Regions from separate parts of the Homo sapiens genome. Here regions 1, 2 and 3 are each reported to be linked to region 4. Evidence: microRNA targets listed by miRTarBase, many of them from high-throughput screens and not tested one by one. Region 4 holds a microRNA gene; each other region holds the end of a gene's coding sequence.
The links. Region 4 holds the annotated microRNA hsa-miR-4640-5p (UGGGCCAGGGAGCAGCUGGUGGG, at 1,106-1,128, opposite strand). A microRNA usually pairs through its seed, bases 2 to 8, with sites in the 3' UTR of a target mRNA and lowers its output. Matches are read on the target gene's strand: a 7mer-m8 pairs with bases 2 to 8, a 7mer-A1 pairs with bases 2 to 7 and ends in A, and an 8mer does both.

Region 1 (4,062 bases), not on the chromosome of region 4:
TGCCTTCAGGCTGGGGAGTAAGCTGGGTGGAGGGTCCCTTTCCACTCACCTGTCTGGCCCTCACTCCCCCTGGGATTGCCTGTCACACCTGCCCCCTGCCCAGGACTCCTCCACCTCCTGCCTCCTGAGAGCCTCTTTTTGTCCCTTCAGCCCTTAGCTGTGTGTATCCCCTCCCAGCCCCCATGACAGCAGAGATTTGTGCCTGTTGAGGTCACTGCTGTGCCCCCATGCTTAGCAGAGTCCCTCACAGGAAAGAAGTGCCCGATAAACACCTAAGATTAAGTGGATTATCAACTCAGCAGGGGGCCGGGGGTGGGGGGCATGGGTGTCAGGACTTTAGATCCAGATTAAGGTTCTACCACTTTACAAACCAGTAGCCTGGGCAGGCTGCTTCCTCTCCTCGTACCAGCTTCAGCAGCAGCAGCCGAGGAATGATGGCAACCACACAGGGCCTTTGTGAGGACTGGACTCCGTAAGGGGCGTGAACGAGTCTGGGCGTGCCCTCCACCAAAGTGAGCATGAGAGGAATGGGGGCCGAAGGAACTTCTGCGGTCACTGCCAGGGTGGGTTTGTGAGCATGGAGCGGCCGCCTAGCCTCACCTTGCCGTGGGTGAGCAGCTCCAATGCAGGTGAACTACAGGGCCGACGGCAAGTGCCACAAGAACCCATGTTCCTTTCTTTACCTGGGACCCACGCCGTGCCTACTGGGCACGGAGCTGCTGCCCAAAACACATTTGTAGAATGAGTGAGTGAGGGGTGGGCAATGACTACCTGAGTGCATGAATCAGTAACGGACAGCGTGTGACACCAAAGCACAGGTCAGGTGTTGGGTCCGGTGCAGGCTGATGTCAAGGTGGTCATGTGAGCTCGCTCAGTTCTGTATTACAAAGTGGGATGAGTAGTGCAGAGCTGGGATTTGAGCCTGGCTCCTCGCCCCTGCATCTTTGCTCATGCCTGGGAGGGCAGCTCCAGTGAGTTAACACATGGCTTGGGGATTCCCCCCTCCACACACAGTCATACAAGGCAGGCAGGCAAGCTCTCCTTTCCACAGGGCAGGAAGCCAAGGGTCAGAGAGGTTAGTCCACTTGCCCAGGGTCACACAGCCTTAAGGGGCAGGGTGGAAACTTGCCCTGAATCTTTCTTGCTATAGGTGTCAGCTCCTGCCACCATATACTGGAGCAGGTAGAAGAGGCTGACCCGAGACTCAGTGTGCCCGACTTATGGGGCACCGAGCTGCCAATTCTACCAGACAGGGCACCTCCCATCCTCCCAGGCCTCCAGAAGTGCCCAAGGCCAGAGCTCCACAGAAGGACCCTAGGAGAAGTGAGCAATGCTTCCTCAGTCTTTGCTAACCCAGCCCACTCTGAACTGCCAAGGTTCACCCCCTCCTTTCGAGTGACCTGAAATTTCAAAAACTGACATGCAATACCAATTATCTAAGCAAGGCTCTGGCCACTTGAGAACACGCTTTTTTGATCCACAATCACTCCCTAGTCCTCTAACAAATCCTCCAGGATCTGTAGACCATCAGTGGCCCTGGTTTCTAAACCCCCTGCCTCCAGATGAGGCCCCAGGACCCTCCTCAAGCACATCAGGGTGTGAAAGGGCAGATTAAGGGCTCTAACTGGAAATCCGAATTTCTCCTTCAAGTCCCCCTCTACTATGAAACCCCCAAGTCAAAGACGCCTGCAGCTTGCCGCCTCCAATCGCTCCTGAGTAATCGCAGCCTTCAGCCAGGTTGAAAATACCCCTTTGGGACCCTCACTGCGGCCTCCCAAGGCCCCAGGAACATGGGTCCTCAGGACCTGGGCTGTGGGTCCAGGAAACCAGTCGCCATGGTCGAGCCCCCTTCTGATCATGAACAACAGCGCTCACCTGGCAGGGCGGCTGCAGCGGCTCTACCGGACCAAGCCCCTCGGGCACGCGCACTGCCTGAAATGCCCTAAGCGCTCGGCTGGACTGTGGCATACCCGCCCTCTCCCCCAGCCCCTGGCTGGCTCGTCTGCCTGGCCCCTGCAGCAGAGACAGCTGAGCGCACCATCCTCCTCCCGTAGGGGGCGGGGGGTCCTGTCCCCGGAGCGGCAGCCGCCGGGACCTCATCTCCCAGCCTCCTTCGCAGGGAGCCGCAACCACGGGACCAGCCCCGTGAACGACCCAGGTAGGGGGACGTGCGCCCTTTGCAGTCAGAGTCTCCCCCAGAAGCTGGAGGCAGGAGGAGGGTGCTTTTGGGGTTAGGGGCGGGGGCCACACGATAGGAGTGGAGGAAGCCAGCCGCCCCTGTGAGAGGGTGGTAGAAGCCGTGGGGGCTCCTTCCCCTGCAGCGGGCAGGCCTGGCCCTGACCAGTCCGCCCTGCCCCATCTACAAGCAGCTCCCAGGCCCTGTGAGTGCCCGCACCATAGTGAGGATATCCGCGGACAGGCCCCCCTGCCTAGAGCCCTCCGCGGGCGACCCAACGGGCCACTCCCGGGGCGCGGCTGACGCTCTGCTGATGCCCCGGCGAGAGCCTCCGTTTACCCCTCTTGCCCTTCTCCCTCCCGGACTCAAGAACCACGCAGAGGGGGACATTTGGATAGTGCCGTTTATTGTTCCAGCACCCCTTCCTCCACCACGCCCAGGCCTGGGACAAACGGGCACCCGCCTCCTGCGGCGCTGCCTCTGCTACCCGGAATCCAGGAGGGGAAGGAACGACTCGAGCTCTAAGGATGGGACCCGGAAGGCAGAAAAAAATAATGGATTGGGGCGGGCGGGGAGTCAAAAGGTGGGCTGATTAAAAGAAAATTCTAAAAGAGAAAAGGGCCCCTGGTTCTCTTCCCTCTCTGGGATCCTCTAAAGGGCCTGGTTTCTCCATTCCTCGCAGCACCCCCCACCCCCGCCCCGGACAACTGAGGAAGAGCAGGGAAAATGGCCTTCCGCTTGGGGCCTGGTCGCCACTCGGCCTCTGCAGTTCTCTCCATTGTCTCTCCGGCTCGCAGGCCGATAACTTAGGAAGGGCGGGCCAGGCTGAGGGGGCAGAGTCTCGAGGCGGAGAAGTGAACGGGCCCTAATACGCCCCAGTGCCCCCCCACGGACGGCGCAGGGACAGAGGAGGGCGGGGAGCCGGGGATGCCGCGGGGTCCATCGCACCCCGTCCGCTTCTCCCTGGGTCTCTTGGTCTTGCACGTCGTCGCTCCCGCCAAGCCCGAGGGGCCCTGCCCGCCCCCCCCCCCGGGCCCCTCCCCTACCGGCCCTCCCCACCGCGGCACTCGGGGCACCGCCCGCCCGCGGCCTCGTCGTCGTCGTCCTCCTCCTCCCCGCCCGCGCGGTAGTAGCTCTGTCCGCAGCTGCTGCAGACCGAGGGCGCGCCCACCGCGTGGATCTTCTTGTGTCTCCGGAGCGCGGCGCCCTGCACGAAGCCCTCCCCGCACTCCACGCAGATGTGGGCCGGCTCCTCGCCCCCCGCCGCCCCGAGCCCGTCCCCGTGCTGGGCCCGCTGGTGCGCCAGGAGCCCGGCCCCGTGCCCGAAGCCCTTCCCGCACTCCAGACACACGTACGGCTTGGGGGCCGGGGCGCGCCGCGACCGGGGCCCCGCGGCCTTTGCCCCCGCGCCCGCCATGGCTGCCGCGGCCGCGGCCCCCTCGCCCGGCGCGCCCACCACGATGATGCCCTCGCCATCGCCCACGGGGATGGCGATCTCGCCGTCCGCCGCCACCGCCTCTTCGGGCCCCTTGGCCCGCCGGACGCTAGCCGCCAGCACCTTGGCCGCCACGCCAGGCCCCGACAGCTCCGGGTGCAGCCGCAGGTGACGCGCGAGGCTCTTGGGCTGGCTGAAGCCGCGGCCGCAGCGCGGGCACACGAAGGGCTTGAGGCCGCTGTGCGAGCGCCGGTGCTTGGCCAGGCTCTTGCTCTGAGTGAAGCTGCGGCCGCAGTCGGGGCAGGTGTAGGGCTTCTCGCCCGTGTGGATGCGCTGGTGCTGCATGAGGTTGGAGCTCCAGCTGAAGCGCTTGCCGCACTCCAAGCAGGCGTAGGGCTTCTCGCCCGTGTGGATGCGCCGGTGCTGCACCAGGTGCGAGCTCTGCGAGAAG
Region 2 (4,062 bases), not on the chromosome of region 4:
TTCTCCTCATCCTTGAAGATGATGTCGGGGTTGTAGTTGGGCACGAGGTCCCGGAAGCGCTCGGAGCCCCTTGCCACCCTCCCCTCCGCTGGCCCACTGGCGCCCAGGGTCCGCTCTGGCACGCCGGGCACAAATTGCTTGTAGAGTAGCGGCACGAGCTGCTTGCGCGCATAGCGGCGCCGGCCAACCGGCCCCCGGCCCGGCCCGCAGCTCTGGGCTGGCAGCGCCAGAAGTGCCAAGCAGCACAGGGGCAGTAGATTGGTCAGGAGAGCCATGGATACAGCGGACCTCGGCCAAAAGGGAGCGTTCTTGTCCTCACTAACTCTCCTGTCAGTTAGGCATCTCCACAGGCACCAGAGAGGGCAGCAGGCACAGCTGCCCCCAGAGTGCCCTAGAGCTCTTGTGGCTCCGTGCACCTGGCTGCTGCTAGCTCTGCCCACGTGCCCCGGGAGCGGGCGGGGGGTGTCTAGGACCTGCTACTGACAAACCATCATAGCAGGGAAGGGGGGTCGTGGGTGAGTGCCAGCCCAGCCCGTCTCTGCTGCAGGACTCTGGTGCTGCCAGAACGCCCGGACTCCGGACTCCGCCTTAAGTGGCCCCTGGCCCCGCCCTCCGCCCTTCTCCCAAGACCGTCCCACCCCCTCCCACCCGGGCGGGGGATCTAGCCGGTCACTGCTGGTCCATTTTGCGACTGAAGTGTGTCCCATCCTGGAAACCAGGCAGACACCTGCCTAGGAAATACTTGTAGCTTTACAGTCCTTGGCTGCCTAAACATCCTTCTACCTCCAAGCTTAAACTTGGAACCAAACCACCCTCCTCTGATACTTGAATTGGAATTTTTACTCTCTCAAAGCCTACCCTGGCAGGCCATGCCCTCCGCTGTCATCCAGGAAGTATGGGTTCCAATTTCTGCCCAAGACCAGCCAAGCCCTTTGGGCATACAACCAGAGCCTCCCTTCTCTGTAGTCCTCCCCAGATCTCCCCGACTTCCATCTCTCCTCACATTCAGCATTAAGCAGGACTGGGAGGTGAGGATACCAGGGGCCCATTTCTCTACTAACTTTGCAGTCTCCTTTGGAACTTCCCCAGAACCAGGAACAGAGCTTGGTACTTATTGTCTCATTTAGGACTTCCAACTTTTTTCCCCTTCTCTTCTTTGCCAGGCATCTAATAGCTGCTGTTTTTCAAATGAATGACTTCTCAGTTGGAAGCTGCTGAAGGGCAGTGGACACTCAAAAGTCTTTGTAAGAGGTGAGGATCACTTCCCTTAACCGTCCATCTAGGCACCTCTCCAGCTTTCTCCCTCTCTGGACTCCCGGGGCTCCATTTTCAGCCACTCAGATCTCATCTCAGAGGCACCACGTCCAATTTCTTTTGTTTAGAAGTCATTTCTTCTAAGAAGCCTTCCTTGATGTCCCAACACTGCCCACCTGTGTTCCCTCGAGAACCATTACTTAACTGCAGTGTTAGAACAGTATTAGAATTATCTGGCACCTTACTAGACAAAGCAATCTTAAGCACACACATATTTATCATGTATCTCCAAGGTTAAGTGCCTACTCTACAGAAGGGTGCTTTGCAAGCATTTGTGGAATCTACACTTTGTGTTTCATATTCACCCTCCCCTCACCACACTCTATGGCTAGTACTCATAGCAACTTTGTGTACATCAGAAAAAACCAGGCCAGGCACAGTGGCTCACTCCTGTAATCCCAACACTTTGGGGGCGAGGCAAGGACTGCTTGAGGCCATGAGTTGAAGACCAACTTGGTCAACATAGTGACACCCCGTTTCAAAAAAAAAAAATTAATTAGTGGGAGGTAGTGGTACATGCCTGTAGTCTTAGGTACTCAGGAGGCTGAGGAAGGAGGATCACTTGGGTGCAAGAGTTCAAGGCTGTAGAGTGAGCTAAGATCATGCCACTGCACTCTAACCTGGGTGACAGAGTGAGGACCCCCCCCCCCAAAAAAAAGATGGCTGGGTGTTGTGGCTAACCCCTGTAATTCCATCATTTGGGGAGTCCAAGGTAGGTGGATCACTTGAGCTCAGGAGTTCAAGACCAGCCCAGGCAACATGGCAAAACCCCATCTCTACTAAAAATACAAAAATTAGCCAGGCATGGTAGCATGTGTCTGTTGTCCTAGCTATTCTGGAGCCTGAGCTGGAAGAATGGCTTGAGCCCAGAATGCGGAGGTTGCAGTGAGCTGAGATTGCACCACTGCACTCCAGCCAGGGTGATAGAGCCAGACCTTGTCTCACAAAAAAAAAAAAAAAAAAAAGAAGAAGAAAAAAGAAAAAAAAAGCACCCCTTCCTCAAGATGACTGACATTTATTAGAAAACTATCATAGTAACTATCCACACAATGACTATGAGGTGAATGGTGTCCCTGGAAGCTGTGCAATACACAATCTGTATAAGCCTAAGTTTTGCGCTCTTACTCCCAACATAGCACATGGGCTTTTCAAGAAACTGATGGCCTCTAGTAAAAAGCTAGATTCTTCTCTCAGGTAGGAAATGAAAATCCTTGTCAGCCAGCCACTTATTTTACTCTATATCCAATAGTTAAGCCAGGGAGGATAGGGCTGAAGGTATGAGTGTATCGGGGAGGTTAGCCTACTCCTATGCCCATGTCCTACCCCCAATACTCAAGGTACAGAAACAAGGCCATGAATATAAGGAGGAGTCAGGGGACAAGCCAGCTTTAAGCAAGACTGAGGATGGAGGAGTTTCCCACTGCCCAACTGCATGGCCTAACACCAGATCCAAGTCCCCAAAGGATGGTAATAATATAGATGAAGGGGAAGGAAAAGGATGGTGGGCAGGACCCCTCTGCTTCTCTTACTGGGCAGACGCCGGGCTGGTGGGAGCAAGGCTGTTCAAATATACACAGAGACAGGTGCTTTAAAAAAACAAAGCAAACCCTGGGATCAACTTTATTGCTGATGGCTGAAGCCTCCTCCTCCCTATCCCCTTGGTCTTTCAGGTGGTCCAAAGCCCCTCCAGGATAGCACAGTGCTTAGGCTCTGCTGGGCCAGAGGCAAGGGAGACAATCTATCTCCCGAGCCTGCCCTGGCCCAGTCCTTTCCCTGCCCCTACCCCACCCTATTGCACATCAAATCATGTAAACATGGCTATGGGGATGGCCCAGAACAGCAGTGAGGCAGATTGATGTGTAAACAGATTTGGGATCAGGGGCTAGACCCAGTCACCCAGCCCTACCCCATGCTGAGGCCACAGTTAAGTATGGAAAAGCAGGAGGTCCTGGTCCCAAACTCTGGCTCAGATTATGCAATAGTGCAGATGGCTCTGCTCCCCTCTGCCACCCACCCTCTCAGATTCCAGGTCCTGAGGTCCAAGTAGCCTTGGGCTTCCCTCCAGGCCTAGGCAGCAGATGGCAGTGTCCAGTTTTTTCCTTCCCACCCCCAGCTGGAGGTCACTGGTGCTGGGTCTTCCTAGATGCCTGGGGGAAACCGGAGACGGGCAGCGGCAGTCTGTCCAGCCCTGGAGAAGAGGAGATGGGCAGTCAAAAGCAAGTCAAAGGTCCAGTCCGTTAGGGACCAGGCAGCCAAGCCACAGAATGTGTGGATGAGGTACGTTACCCACAAAGCAGGAAGCACACCCTCTCCCCTGCTGGGGTGATCCATGTTCCAGAGTGTCCTAGATGATTACCACCCCCCACTAGCCTGCACCCTCACTCCCTCTCACCAAAGGCCCGGATCAGCTCTGCCCGCACAGCTGCAGTGAAGGTCTTCACCAGACAGAGTGTGGTGAGGCCTGCAAAGGCTGCGTTGTAGAGGAACACAATGTAGAAATTGCCCAGCCAGTTGAAGCGTCCAAAGTCACCCAGCAGGTCAAAGCGAGTGAGCCCTGAAGCACAAAGGCCAGGATGAGAGGTGGGCTCCCCAGGCCCTTTTCTGCTACCAGCCCAACTTTCTGCTGCCTCCTGGTGGCCACATTTCAACACTGCAACTGATAGGTTGGCCTCTCCCAATTCTACCACCCAAGCTGTCTCAAGAGCAGTTCGGGACTGTTCTAAGTGCCAGCAGCTAGGCTTGCTTCAA
Region 3 (4,062 bases), not on the chromosome of region 4:
CCAGGTGCAGTGACTCAAGCCTGTAATCCCAGCACTTTGGGAGGCAGGAGGATCACTTAAGCCCAGGAGTTTGAGACCAGCCTGGGCAACACAGGGAAACTCCATCTCTACAAAATAAAAAATGTTAAAAAACCTAGCTGGGCATGGTGGTGTACGCCTGTGGTCCCAACTACTCTGGAGGCTGAGGTGGGAGGATCACTTGGGCCCCAGAGGTTGAGGCTGCAGTGAACCATGATCGTGCCACTGCACTCCAGTCTGGACAACAGAGGAAGACCCTGTCTCAAGAAATAAAAATAATGGCCAGGCACAGTGGCTCGCTCATGCCTGTAATCCCAGCACTTTGGGAGGCTGAGGTGGGTGGATCACTTGAGGTCAGGGGTTCGAGACCAGCCTGGCCAACATGGTGAAAGCTCATCTCTATTAAAAATACAAAAATTATCCAGGCATGGTGGCATGTACCTGTAGTCCCAGCTACGTGGGAGGCTGAGGCTGGAGAATTGCTTGAACCTGGGAGGTGGAAGTTACACTGAGCCAAGATCGTGCCACTGCACTCCAGCCTGGGTGACAGAGCGAGGCTCCATCTCAAAAATAATAATGATAATGATAATAATAAAATGATAGATGCAGAGGTGACTGGGATCTATAAACGGGAGCTGTGTTGGGGAGCGGGGACACTCAGGCACTTGGGACAGGGACATTTGGTGGCATCTGGGTCTGGAGCAATGGCAAGCTGCTGTAGTAGGAAGGCTTCAAAAGCTCCAAACGGGGCCTCCAGATGCTGTGAGTCCTCTCCTAGGACGCCCCATGTGGGAGGCCCCATATGGGAAACACTGGGTGGGACCAAAAGACTCCAAAGTCCCTTCCAAGCTGGAGACTCAGCTCTACATCCTGAGCCCCGCCTCCCACAATGGACGAGGTGCTCCCTTGGAGCTGATTTCAGGTCGCCTGTCCTGGGGGCATTCCCACCTGAGCTCCTCTGTGGTTTGCAGAACTCACCCATACCATCACTGGCCCAAAGGGATGGGGTGCTATGGTCTGAATGTTTGTGTCCCCCCTAAATCCTAGGTTGACTTTTTTTTTTTTTTTTTTTTTTTTTTTTTGAGATGGAGTCTCACTCTGTAACCCAGGCTGGAGTGCAATGGCGCAATCTCGGCTTGCTGCAACCTCCGCCTCCTAGGTTCAAGCAATTCTCCTGCCTCAGGCTCCTCAGTAGCTAGGATTACAGGCATGCACCACCACGCCCAGCTAATTTTGTATTTTTAGTAGAGACAGGGTTTCACCATATTGGCCAGGCTGGTCTTGAACCCCTGACCTCCACTGATCCACCTGCCTCAGCCTCCCAAAATGCTGGGATTACAGGCGTGAGCCACCTCACCCAGCTCTAGGTGGAAATTCTAACCCCAAGGTGATAGTTTTAGGAAGCAGGGCCTTGGAAGGCGATGAGGTCATGAGGGTGGGGCCACATGAATGGGATTAGTGCCTTTATGAAAGGGGCCCAAGATGGCCCAGAGCAGTGGCTCATGCCTGTAATCCCAAGCACCTTGGGAGGCCAAGCAGGTGGGAGGATCACTTGAGGCCAGGAGTTTGAGGCCAGCCTGGGCAACAAGGTGAAATTCCCCATGTCTACAAAAAAAAAAAAGGAGGGGCAAGAGAGCTTGCTAGTCCCTTTCACCCTGTGAGGACACAGTGAAAAGAGCCATCTGTGAAGCAGGCCCTCACCAGACACCGCTTCTGCCAGCACCTTGATCTATGAGAAATGAATCTGCGGTTTCTGAGCCACCCAATGTGTGGTATTTTGTTACAGCAGCTCAAATGGACTGAGACGAGCAGGGCCCTCAGGCCATGGTGGTTTATTGATGCACGTCGCAAGCACAGCACAGGCAGGCGGACCCCAGCCCCGGGGGGACATGAGGGCCAGGGGAGGGCAGTGGGCCACCCCCACAGCAATGCTGTCAGCACAGGGGGAAGGAAAGGGCCTGGGCCATGTTCTCTCCTTCTCCACACCTCTCCCCAAGCCTCCAGGCCTCCTGACTCATCCCAGAGAGACAGCTGGCCACACAACTGCCCCTGGCTACAGATAGGTGACCGTTGTCCACCTGTCCCTCACCGAGGTATGGCCTTGCCGGCCCGCTGCTGCTTCCGTCCTTCATCACGAAAATCCAGCTGCTCATCCATCATCTCTGTCACCTCTGAGAAAGTCACTGTGAGGCTGCACTCTCCTCTGCCTGATGTCACCTCCATCATCCCCCAAACAGCCGGCTGCTGCTGTCAGCCCCTCCCACAGGCTCTCTGTTTGCTTTGTTGATTGTAGGGAGTCCACCCTCGTGACCTGTGTGACAGTAGGAATGAGGCAAAAACACAAGGAGGCCCGGGAAGGACTTCACCAAGAACTCCCCGGGGAGGGGCTCCCGGCCAGCAGGGTGGCAGGAGAGCAGACAGAGCCAGTGGGGAGGGGAGAGGCGGAGCAGCAGAGGGTCCACAGTCCAGGTCACGCATGGGCACAGTACAGTCATGGCACCATGGCAGAGCGAGTGAGCAAAGTGCACAGCTGGGCGGGGTGCCGGGGCCCGCGGGACAGCTTACAGGTCTCACGTTCCATGCCAGGCCCCAGCAGAGCATGAGGCGGCCCACTCCCAGCTGAGGAAGGGGCACCTCTGGGTCTCAGGGGTCTCCTCCCCCTCCTCAACCCCAGTGGCTGCTGTCTCAGACCCCTGCACTCTAAGCAAGGAGAAGGTATGCTGGGGTATGGAAGGAAGGAACATCCGACAGCCTGACGCCCCCAGTGCCAAGAGAAGAAAGAGAGTTCCTTTCTAGAGAGCAGGGGGAGTGTCCCGGTGGGCAGGTGGAGAAGGAGGGACAGCTCTCCCATGCAGGAAGAGGGTTCTTTGGGGCAAGGAGCAGCCAGGGAGTCACGGTGGTGCAGGAGACTATTTATAGAAGGAAGGGATCCAGGCCTGGAGTGGGAAGCCCCAGAGACCCAGCTCAGCAGGGAGGGGGCATTCTGTGGTTGGCCCTGAGTGGGGTGAGTGGGACTAAGAAAGATCGCCCCACAGCTCTCTGCATCTCTTCTGGAGGCAGCCAAGCTACCCATGGGCTTTGGCCCAGAGGGGCTTCCCTGGGAGAGCCCAGGAGGTGGGCAGGTCTTTGGGAGATAGAGACCTGGACGAGGCAAAGAACAGTAGGACAAGGAAACCAGAGGAAAGGGGAAGTTCTCCAGAAGTCCAGCCCAGCTGCCAACTACAGAGGCTGAGAAGCCTTTCCATGTCCACCAGGCTGGGTGTGGGCCACACTTACCAAGAGGACCACCGTCTGTTGCCTCCAATGCCAAGGGGCGAGGGGAGGGCAGCTGGGCAGAGTGGAGGGAGCAGGGGGGCAGGAGAGAGAAAGCCAGCTCCCTGAACCTGGGCTACCCACCTCCACCTTCCGCTCATCTCTCCCTCGCCCCCCAGCTCCCCAGGAGTCCCTAGCGGCCCACGCTGATGTTGCAGGTCTTGCAGCTGGGGTCCTTCTTGGCATCGGCAGTAGACAGACTCATGAGCTGGTGCCCACTGATCTCCCCCAGGGTGCCCAGGGACAGGTCGACGGGCTCAGTGTAGATGATCTCCAGGATGAGGTCCTGGGCGTGGCGGAAGACCAGCTCCCCATCCTCCACGCTGCAGGTCAGGAACTTGTTGCAAGCAATGTCCAGGAGGGGCAGGCGGTCGCGGCAGAAGCGGTCCCCCAGGGAGCCTTTGGGCGCCAGCACCAGGATGGCGTAGTGGTAGGCCGTGTACATGCAGTAGAAGTCCGCAAAGTAGAGGTTGGTGCTGGGATTGAAGAGGCGCTGAGCTGGGATCTGGAAGCGCCAGCGGCCGTAGGGGGAGTCCTGCGGGGGCTGGCCCGTGTTGAACTCCGTGTTGCAGCTGAAGAAGACCCCGTGGAGCATACCGCTGGTGGGGGAGCCGTGGCTGCCACTGTTGTCCTTCAGGTAAGGCTGCAGCATGTTCCCGCAGTGGGTCCTGCCCACCCCAGGGAGACACACCAAAGGGAAGAGAAGATGTGGCTGGTGAGCCGGGCTGAGGC
Region 4 (4,064 bases):
GACCCCCATACTGCAGTCTGGAGAAGAGGGGACCAAGGAAGAGGAGGTTGGAAGGGAAGAGGGTCTTGACATCCAGGCATTCTGCTCCGCCACCCTCCGGCACAGTGGCATGGCCAGCCTGGCTCCCATCCACTAGTCCCATTCCCATCCCACCTCACACTCATGCAGCTGGCCCTTCTCCTCTCTCCACCCCACCCCAGCACTACAGGTACCTTGCAGGTCACATCCAGCACAAAGGCACCACCTCTAAGGGGCACCATTTCAATCTATGATGTGTATATTTATTGCAGCAATTTCCAACAATGTGTGTTAGCAAAGGGGTGCCTTTTTCATACAGTGTCATACGGGCTAGTGGTCACCCTAGTGCTACCCTTTGAGGCCCCACCTAACCCATCCCTCTTCTCAGCTCTTCCATCTCACTCCCCACCCTACTTACCAGCCCCCCTACACACACACACTCTCACACACACACACACACACACACACACACAGTCCTCCCTCCCACCCCAAACTCCATATCCTGCAGGGGCCTTTCTTACCCGCCCACGGTATGTCCGTCATAGGTGGAGTCGTTGAGGTACACGGCCTCAGATAAATACATTGTCTGCCCCACAGGGGCGGTGTAAGACAGGAGTCCATCTGGGGCAGGGTGAGAGGATGGGGGTCAGAGGCACTAAGGCTCCATCCCCCATCCCTGCATCAGGCCTGGGCAGGTTTCAGGTCCCTTCTTGTATCTCTCCACTGGCTCATTGGCATGGAGGAGACAATGCTGGCTAGCCCCCTCCTCAGAGTGACAGCTTCCCAGCAGGAGAAGGGATCCTGGATGCCCATTCTCCACACTCCCCACCCTCCAGTCCCCTGCTCAGGAAACAGATTCCCAGGAAGCTGAGCCACTCACCCCTCCAGAGGCAGCCATAGAGCTCTACCCGCAGACAGACGCTCATGACCCGGTCAGCCCGGGGGTAGAAGCGAACCAGTCGGGCAACCATGGGGGGCCCAAGGTCCTTCAGCACCACTCCCTCAGGGTCCTCATTGCCTGAGATCACCTGTGGGCCAGGAAACAGGGGGTGGGTGGGATGGAGTCCAGGTCAGATCTTACTTCCCACCCACCAGCTGCTCCCTGGCCCAGCCCACAGTGGCCACTTAGAGACCCATGAGGGGTGGCACCGAGCACACAGCACTGTGGGGCGCAGCCAGGCATGGGTGAAATGAAGATCTGCAGCTGAGACCTCTGGCTCTGTCGCAGCTCTGATGTTCCATCCTCAGACTTCAGGCTCAGCTGCCCTCTTCTCCTTGCCTGGCTCCATCCATTTGTCTCCAAGCCTATCATCCCATTGTGCCCAGATTCTCCCCAATCCTCACAGCCCTGCACCCCTGCCTCAGCTTCCCCTTCATTTCAGCCCATTCCCTCTGTTCATTCAGCAGAAGTTGGCTGAGTGCCCGCTCTGTGCCAGGCGCGTTCTCAGTGGTGAACGTCACTCCCCACCCTTGTAGGACTGAGATCCCAGCAGGGAAAACAGCTGCGAAGAACAAGAGGCAGGAAGTATGGACAGAGCAGTGAGGTGGGTGGCCAGAAAAGGCTCTCTAAGGAGGTGACACCTGGCAGAGAACTGAATGGAGTGAGGGAGAGCCTGTGGTTATTTAGGGGAGGAGCTTTGCAGGCACAGAGAAAATGTCCAGAAGCTGTGGGAACGAGCCCTGGCTTGTTCCAGCAACAAGAAGAAAGGCAGCGTGGCCAAGGAGGCGCCAAGAAACAAGTGATGCAGGCAGGAGCCAGGTCAGGCTGAGCATCCTGCACCAGCTAGGGACTCAGCTTTTGTTCTGGCAGAGTGGAAAGCCAGCATGGGGGTGTCAGCTAGGTGTGACGTATCTGATTTACATGCTCTAAGGTCCACTGGATGCCGCCCCCCCAGGTGGAGATTTGACTCCAGGCAGAAAAGGGCAGAAGCAGGGAGACGCGTTTGGCATCTACTGCACTCATCTAAGCTGGAGATGGCGGGCAGGTGGCCTAGGGCAGTAGAGGTGGAGTGGTGAGGAGTGACTGGACTCAGGAACACTATGGAGGTAGAACAGACGGGGCTGCTGATGCTTTGGAAGGAGGTGAGAGAAAAAAAGGAATCAAGGATATCATCTTAACTTATAGCCTAGGCAACCAGGCAATGGTGATACCACTTCCTGAGCTGGAGAATGCCAGGGGAGGAGCAGGTTTAGGCTGGGAATGGGAATCAAATTCAGCTTGGGAAGTTAAACGTACGTTTGAGATGCCTATTAGACATCTAGGTGGCTGGCTACAGTGCTTGTAATCCCAGCACTTTGGGAGGCTAAGGTGGGAGGATCACTGAGCCCAGGAGTTCAAGACCAGCCTGGGCAACACAGCAAGACCCCATCTATTAGAAAAAAAAAAAAAGACATCTAAGTGGAGAAATCCAAAAGGTGGCCAGGTTTACAATATTGTTTGGAGCTCAGCTGAGAGGCTTAGTCTGGAGATGATATAAACTGGAGAGTCGTCAGCGTATAGGTGGTGTTTAAAGTACAGCTGGAAGTGAGGAGAGCCAACCTCCTCTGGGTGCTGCCCCTGCCAGTCTCACCTCCTGACCCCAGCGGTCCTTCCAGCCCATCCAGCGGCGACCATCCCGGGAGTAACGCAGCCGGTAGCTCCGGGAGAACTCCTTGCCCAGGCCCCCGGCATGCCGTCCCTGGGTGCCCACCAGAGCCACCAGGTGCAGTCGTTGTAGATCCACCTGCAAGTACTCCTCCTCCTTGGGAAACACCGACCCTGCGGGGCACCAGGCCCCATCCCCGTCACTGCTCTCCAACCTGAGGGTGAAGAGGGGCACAGAGAACATCTGGCCCCAGGTCTGCCTCCATCTCCAGTATTTAAACCCCACTTCATTTGCCCCCTCAGCCTGCAGGGGTTTCACTGGCATGGGCAGAGGGGTTGGAGGGGAAGTAGAGGTCCCAGGAGCTCCTCTCGGGGCAGCTACAAGTGTGCCAGGTGTGCCAAGTACCTGCTGTGGCGGGCGGCAGTGGAATCTGACCAGGAGCTGGAAGCAGAGATGTCACTGTCTGGGATGGTCCGGTCCTGCATGCCCAGGGCATAGCGGCACTTGGCTGAGTAAAAAGCAGGCATGTAACAGGTCAAGGCCCCCAACTCTCTACCTCCCAAGCCCTGGCCCTCAGGGACCCATGATTCAGTCTCCTCACCAGGATCAAAATGTCCCTTCATGTCAGCATCTCCACTTGCCACCAAGAGCAGCAGCAGTAAAGATGACAGGGCCTCTGGTCCCATAGCTCCTGATCCCTCGGGCCTAAGGGGGTGGGGGCAGCATCTCTGCAGGGGATAAAATGGGTGGTGCGTAAGTTAATCAGGGGACTGAGTCATAGCTGACAGCAACAGACAGAATGGGCCGCTTTGGGGATAATAACAGTAAAACAACAACAACAGTCATTGTTTAACAGCATCAGCTATATTTTTAGAATGCTTCCCCTGTGCCAGACACTGGCCTAAACCCTTAAACAGAATCCATAATTTTATCTTCACAGTCACTTCATAAGGTAGATACTATTACTATCCATATTTAACACATGAAGAAACTAGGGCAGAGATCAGTTAAATAACTTCCTAAAGCCCCATTTCTCCAATCAGGAATGGGCAAAATATCCCCATAAACAACGGCTTAGAACAAACAACAAGTGTGCAAAAAATGTTTATAACACATACAACAGGAAAAGGTTTAATAACTACAATAAACTAAGGCCCCTTAGGAACTGACAAGAAAAAATATATAAGTAACCCAATAAAGAAACAGCCAAAGAATGTGAATAGTCATTTCACAGAAAAGCAAAGCCAAATTGCCAACAAACATTTTTTTTAATGGTCAAATTCACCAGCCTCAGGGAAATACCAAGCAGACTGACAAGATATTTTTTTAAGGCTGTAACATATAAAAGTGGTAGAAAGTGATGAAAAGGGAGGCACCATGCTCAATGGCAGAAATGAGTGTTATCTTCTATTTGGAAAGCAATCTAGCAATGTCTATTATAATTAAAAATGCACATCCTCT

Region 1: miRTarBase lists ZNF787 as a target of hsa-miR-4640-5p. Seed matches in the 3' UTR shown: 7mer-m8 at 2,994-3,000.
Region 2: the mRNA of LMBR1L is a reported target of hsa-miR-4640-5p. Seed matches in the 3' UTR shown: 8mer at 3,029-3,036.
Region 3: the mRNA of PHYHIP is a reported target of hsa-miR-4640-5p. Seed matches in the 3' UTR shown: 7mer-A1 at 3,281-3,287, 7mer-A1 at 1,978-1,984, 7mer-A1 at 1,929-1,935 and 7mer-m8 at 1,912-1,918.

Annotation. Positions count from the first base shown.
Region 1 is chr19:56,084,805-56,088,866 of GRCh38, forward strand. It overlaps ZNF787 (zinc finger protein 787), which reads right to left. Exons shown (of 3, transcript NM_001002836.4): 3 at 2,562-4,062. The coding sequence ends at 3,219. Among named protein-coding and RNA genes, the nearest start is that of LINC01864, 20 kb to the left of the region's middle. RefSeq lists enhancers at 207-708, 709-1,208, 1,544-2,143.
Region 2 is chr12:49,094,238-49,098,299 of GRCh38, forward strand. LMBR1L (limb development membrane protein 1 like) reads right to left here. Exons shown (of 17, transcript NM_018113.4): 16 at 3,707-3,868; 17 at 2,902-3,502. The coding sequence ends at 3,435. It overlaps DHH (desert hedgehog signaling molecule), which reads right to left and starts at 564. Exons shown (of 3, transcript NM_021044.4): 1 at 1-564. The coding sequence starts at 275. It overlaps DHH-AS1 (DHH antisense RNA 1), which reads left to right. Exons shown (of 4, transcript XR_007063295.1): 4 at 1,164-1,507.
Region 3 is chr8:22,217,890-22,221,951 of GRCh38, forward strand. PHYHIP (phytanoyl-CoA 2-hydroxylase interacting protein) reads right to left here. Exons shown (of 5, transcript NM_014759.5): 5 at 1,814-3,998. The coding sequence ends at 3,464. Among named protein-coding and RNA genes, the nearest start is that of PHYHIP, 12 kb to the right of the region's middle. RefSeq lists an enhancer at 2,125-2,825.
Region 4 is chr6:30,887,955-30,892,018 of GRCh38, reverse strand. MIR4640 (microRNA 4640) reads right to left here and starts at 1,136; the gene lies at 1,047-1,136. DDR1 (discoidin domain receptor tyrosine kinase 1) reads right to left here. Exons shown (of 18, transcript NM_001297654.2): 2 at 3,205-3,331; 3 at 3,009-3,111; 4 at 2,589-2,817; 5 at 899-1,046; 6 at 540-639; 7 at 1-17. The coding sequence starts at 3,289.